Regions from separate parts of the Homo sapiens genome. Here region 1 is linked to region 2. The links come from fine-mapping of genetic effects on gene expression. A gene starts in region 2. The other region holds a variant in brackets. All regions are shown on one strand. Distances are between the middles of the regions.

What was found.
Region 1: its variant is fine-mapped to the expression of SERTAD2 in whole blood (INTERVAL, PIP above 0.99).

The regions. Positions count from the first base shown.
Region 1 is chr2:64,630,891-64,633,736 of GRCh38, reverse strand. SERTAD2 (SERTA domain containing 2) reads left to right here. Exons shown (of 2, transcript NM_014755.3): 2 at 1-2,116. Among named protein-coding and RNA genes, the nearest start is that of SERTAD2-AS1, 4.6 kb to the left of the region's middle. The variant AG/G (reference allele first, on the strand shown) is at 1,493.
Region 2 is chr2:64,652,318-64,655,228 of GRCh38, reverse strand. It overlaps SERTAD2 (SERTA domain containing 2), which reads left to right and starts at 1,316. Exons shown (of 2, transcript NM_014755.3): 1 at 1,316-1,609. It overlaps LOC124907776, which reads right to left and starts at 1,158. Exons shown (of 1, transcript XM_047446580.1): 1 at 6-1,158. The coding sequence starts at 949. The coding sequence ends at 518. RefSeq lists silencers at 683-1,502, 1,240-1,534, 1,643-1,972, 2,273-2,352.

The sequences.
Region 1 (2,846 bases), 21 kb after region 2:
GTCATTTCCTTTAATAGGACCAGGGACCATGTAACTGAGGTGAGGGTTGTAGTAGATGCTTCCAGTGTCAGTATGCCTGTTAATTTTAAGAGCTTCCCTTTCTTGCAGAGAACAAGTCTGCCCAGATTCCATGCTTTCTATAACTGGAGGACCTGGCAAACCTGCCGCATGCTGCACACATCTACCTACGTACACATATACAATAGTATTGATGATTCTGAACAATAACAGGGTAAAACAGTTGGTTTGCCATTGTTAAAAACTGATTTACAGTAACTTACAACAACTGTACTTTTGTTGGATTAGCAAATCATGTGTTTAAACAAATCCCATATGTTGGGCAACAGTTCAAATAAGCACGGAGAAGTGTTGCCCAAACTTGGTTCTCTGACTCTTATGTATTTGTAAGGCTGGGCTTCAAAATCAAAACAAAAACCCCAAAAACAGCAGGCAAATGCTTTTTAACTCTGACACCGTTGCCATAAATCCCTGATACTCAAAGTCTAACAAGAAAGACATGGAAAATTAGCAGCCCATTTTCAGAAAGATCAAAATGATCTAGGGTTCTAATTGCTTTTGCATCCTATTCTTACAAAGTGATGTCCCAACAGGGAACAGTAGGAGCTGGAGTGGGATCTCCAAGTCCCAGTTTGAGTGTGGGATGTGCTTCCAGCAGTGCCTTCCCTTTATGAAAGACATCACATGGCATCCAGGGCCAGGCAGGCAGCTTGAGGTGCCTTTACGAGAAAACCGAGCTGGGGCTGGGAGAGGACAGTTATTGACACTGATGTGCAATGAAGTGACAAGATGAGAGCAGAATCGTAAGAGCTTTGAATTTGAAGTGAGTTTTTTTCCCCCCATAAGTTATTTATTCCTTTTTTCTGTGTAAATATATTTATTTTACTGTGGAGCGCTAACATCTGGATCGTAACATGTGCAGAATGTATGGTAGGAATGTATTCTCTTGTAGGAATGTAAATCTGTATTAAAAGGGGGTCCAAGCCAGGCCCCCAGGTCTTCTCATTGTATGCACAGTCCGCATTCATTTTTACTCTTCTCTAATATGGGTCTATTTGAAATATGCAAAAGGTATGAGGAATGTTTTAATACCTCCAAATTTTTAAGAAAAGCATCAAAGGGTTGATATTTTTTAAAGTTTTTTTAGTAGCACTTTCTCTGGATGACAGAAGGAGCAACCACATGGGCACCCTTGTTCATACCAAAGGGTGAGCAGTGGCCAGAGCCTCCTCTGCACCTCTCGAGTGTCTTTACCAATTGAGCTTTTTATCGCCATAGCCCCTTGGAGTGCCCCAGCTGCCCTGAGGTCAATCAAGGAAAATTTCTTAATGAAATAAGCTCCAAAGAGCCAAAGTATCAACTTACAGATCGTTTTTAAAGCTTAAATTTATGAACCACCTTTGTGGTAAACAATGAATTATGAATACCGCAGGGCAGCCTTCTTAAATGACAAATGTAAAAAAAAAAAAAAAAA[AG/G]ACTCTACTTCGTGCAGCAATTGCTACTCTATACGAATTGTCTTAATTTGAAAACCTTGCTGTTACAAATTGGACCTTTATACATTTTCTGAAAACAATGAAAAGAGTATATTTAACCTTTTCTGGCTGTAAATGGTTACCTTCCTGTAACTGCCCCGCACCTGGAGGCATGGAGTTGTGTGCATCCTGCTTATGTACAATTGTTTTCAGTGTTTCTAAGAATGAGTCTGAATGGTTCTTGAAAATTAGCCAGGATCAAATGCTATTGCAGACAAAGCCAATAAAAAGTTGGACTTCTTTTGGGGATAACAAGTTTTGGAAGAGAAATGCAGGCCATATGTGCGCATGACCGAGATTTTGAAAAAAGATGTACATAGTGACATGTTTGGTGCATGGTTTTTGAGGAGGGCTTTTGTCAAAAAGGAGGTATAACCTTTCCCCCACAGACCTGAGAGCTGTGCCTTTTCTATGCAATATTACAGACGTTACATCGGAACCCAGATGGCTGTATTCACATGTAGGTTTGGGCTGTAATCTAAACAATTGGACAGATTAAATGTACATGGAAATGAGCAGTCTTACTTTTGTAGTTTTATATTATACAATAAACAGTTAAAAGATGAGAGAGGCATGCTTGCAGTTTTCTTTTGATGGGAGCTCAATCAGCTTATTTGTGACAGTTTGCTCACATTAAGCAAAGTCCAGCAAGAGAGAGCAGCAGGGGGGCCCCGAAGGAGTGCGTGCTGTTGGTCTTCCTGAACCGTCCTGGTCTCAGGAACCACCCTTCTCTCCTGGTTCTCCTCCTGCTTCTTGGACCCTTCTGGACCTCCTTTTTCTCACATCTGTGCCCCAGCTCTCTTTAAAACATTGTCTTTTCCAGGGTTTGGCCCATGACTGCACTTCACTGAGCCTCCATTCCTGCTGCCTCTTGCTTTCCCAAGGTGATCTAATCCACTCAGGACTCTCAAAACTGGTCTCCAGCCCCTGCCTCTCTCCTGAGCTCCAGACTTCAGTATCTACCAAGATTTGCTCCCTCACTCTCAGCGCGTCTAAAGAGCTCTCGTTTCCCCTGGGGGCTGATTCTTCTGTGGGCTCGTTGTCTTCAGCACTCTGCTCCACGCTTGGCTCAGTTGCCCACCCTTGCACCCTGTTCCGCAGTCCCAGCCATGTCATTCCCTCTGCCACCACCTCTCCATCCTCACCATAGCGTCCCCAGCTCGGACCCTTTCTCTCTCCTTGCCTCTGACCGCCGTACCTGTTTCCTGACTAGTCTTCCTGCTGTGATCGTCTCTCTACCATCCCTGATGCTGGAGTTGACATTCTAAAATGCCAGTGGGTCACGTGGTTGTTGCA
Region 2 (2,911 bases):
TTGTCTCCTCTATCAACATTTCAGCACAAGTTTAATTTCGATGAGATCATCAATTTGATTGATAACAAATCATTACAGAACAGTTTAAACAAGTCTAAATTTCTCTTGATGTTAACGACTTACAATCGCCTTTATGTTAGGTCTTAAAGCTTTATTATTCTTAAATACAACTAGTATAGTGGACCATTAAACTCCAAAGTGATCTGAAATGATATTGATTGGGGTGGCAGCCAAAATTTTAAGGTGCCTGCCTGCATTGCCTTTTACATCTTGACGCTGAATGCACGTGTAATTTTTAAAATAATCATTAATTTTCCAGTGGAACCATCTATCTGGCCTCTTTCCCTAGTGCTCTTAAATTCTCACCATTTGGGCATACACACATTCTCTTCCAACTAGTATAAATTTCCCTGGTAAATTTAAGTAGTTCCAAGCATAAGCTTACTCCACGGGAGGGAAAGGCTATCAATGTGAAACTTGTGGGCAGAGGACTGCGCCTCCGACCTGGCTGCGTCTCCTAGCTTGGCTTCCCTCCTGCCGGGTCTGCACCGAGCCCCGGCCGGCCCCGAAGGATGCAACTCGTTCGGTCCGGCTCCCAAAGTGCCGTGGACTTGGTGACCCACTTCTCGTGTCGGGCTGAGGCCACGCGGGCAAGGGACTTTTTCTGTCCCCGGCTCACGGCTGGAGCCCCCATCCTGCCGTTCGGACCAGTGCGGGCCTCGGAGGAGTGTCCCGCAGCGGACCCCCGCCCAGGAACCCCTGCAGGCAGCGAGACGGGCGCCCGGGCCAGCTCTCTGCCCCTCGCCCCCCGCGGGGACCCTGCCCGCCCCGCTGACCGGCCCCACGTTGCCAAATAGCTCAAATGCTTGTCATATTTGCGGTCGCGCGGCTCCGCGGGCTGTGCACGCGCTGCACTCGCCGCCGCCTTTGTCACCAGCCGCTTCGTCATTCGCCTGAGCACTTCTAGAGTGTGTAGGGGGCGTTACTAGTGGCAGTGGTGGTCCTCGGGCCGGAGTGTCTCCTTCTGTCTCCCCTCCTCTTTCAGCCCGTCCTTACGAGAAAATCAGGGGCGCGCCGGCCCGGCAGGGAGCTGGGGGCGGCGCTGCCACCAGGCGCCCACTGCGCCCCGCCGCCCCTTCCTGCTCCTCCTGCGGCCGCGGCCGGCCGCGGCCGGCCCCGGCCTTTATCGCGCCTCCCGGGACCGCCGGGGAGAGGCGGGCCGGGGCGGGGCCGGCGGGGGCGGGGTCGGGCGGCCAGGGGCGGGGCCTGCGGCGCCGGGGCCCGGAGCTCGCGGGAGGCTCGCGGGCCGCACGTCACTCCTGCACGGCGAGTGCTGGAGCACGACGTACCGCTCGCTCGGTCAGGGCGCCCCCTCCGCCCGCCTCCTGCTTCCTCCTCCGCTGCCTGCCGCCGCCGCCTCCACCATTGTATAATGCTCGGGGCGCGCAGGCAGAGAACGGCGGAGTCTTAGCTTCAGCCTCGCCTGCTGCCCGCTCCCCGGCGCCACCCTCGGGCCCCTGGAGCGGGGCACTCCGCATGGAGCGGGAGTAGCTGAGGAGTGGGCGGAAACCCCTCCTGATGCGTTAGTTCCCAGGTGGAGCTGCATGTGGTAAGTTCTCCCGGCGTCGGGCTGGAGGGGATCCGCGGGCGCGGGGGGCTCCGGGTGGATGGGGGGCCGGTGTTGGGACTCGGCCAGGGCTGGGAGAGCCCGGAGGGCGGAGGAGGGGCCGGGCGCCGCCGCGGGAGGGAGCCGGGGACGGAGCAGGTACGGGAGGAGCGCTCCCTCCCGCGGCCCCGGTCCGGGCCCCGCGCTCTCGGACCCCCGGCGCCTGCGGGCTGAGCCGCTGGGGGGCAGGGCCGGGGTCAGGAGGGGGTCGGGAGCTCGGAGAGCCGAGCGGCGGGCGGGGGCGCCTGGAGCTGTCGCCTCTACAGCTGGGATGTGTGTGCGCGTTGTGGCGGTTGTGTTGTTGTGAACGTGCGAGACTTTTTTTAAGGCTCGGATTGCTGGCGCGAAGGCTGCTTCACTTTTGAGTTCCGTGGCCGGGTTTGCATCCAACTTACTGTAGTGCGTTTTTGTGAATTTCCCGGTGTTTTTTTTAATAATGTTGAAAACCTTCCTCTCCACCCTCTTTTCTTTCGTCCATGCCCAAATGAATTGATTTGGGATCTACATGTATATTAAACTTAACGTCTCGTTGGTTTTTAAGTTAGAAATCTACAAGTCATCTTCGTGGTAACCGCCTATGACTGAAAGGGAGGGGGCTGAGGGGAGCCAGCTGTCCCAAGCCCTAGACTTTGTACCAGTAAGAGAGGGGGTGTCGTCACAGGGCCACTACATGGACAGAAAATCGTATTTTGTTTTGTTTTCTTGGCTATAAGTTACCTTTAGCAGAAGTGGTAGTAATAGATTGCGATGGGAGTCGAGTTTTAGGTTTAGTTTCTAAGTTTCACGAAAATATCAGGTATAGTTTGCATTGGAATAACTTTTTGCTTGCAAGCCGAGTCGTTTCAGGAGGTAGAAAGTAAGTTTTCACAGACACTGAATGGGGAGGACAGTCAGCAGAGTGAGACAGCCAGCCTCAGACCACAGCAGTTTTTATTTGAATCGAATTGGGCAGCCTCAGTTGGGCTTAGGGTAGAGAGTACATGTTTTCAAGCTTTGTTCATGAAATACGCTTTTTGATTTCCCAATGTATGTTAAGAAATATCCATAATGTGTGTAAAGAGGCTAGAAGTTGTAGTCACCAGGATTCCTGAGGCCCTAAGTGTTCACAGTAGCTTTTTGTAGTTAGAGACTAGTCCCTGACAAGAGTGAAGTGGGCTTTGGGCTTCGCTCCGCCCCTGAAGGACCGTCCACCTGAGAGCGTCTGGGCTGCTTGGCCGATGGGGGTTGGGGGTAGTTGCTCAGCTC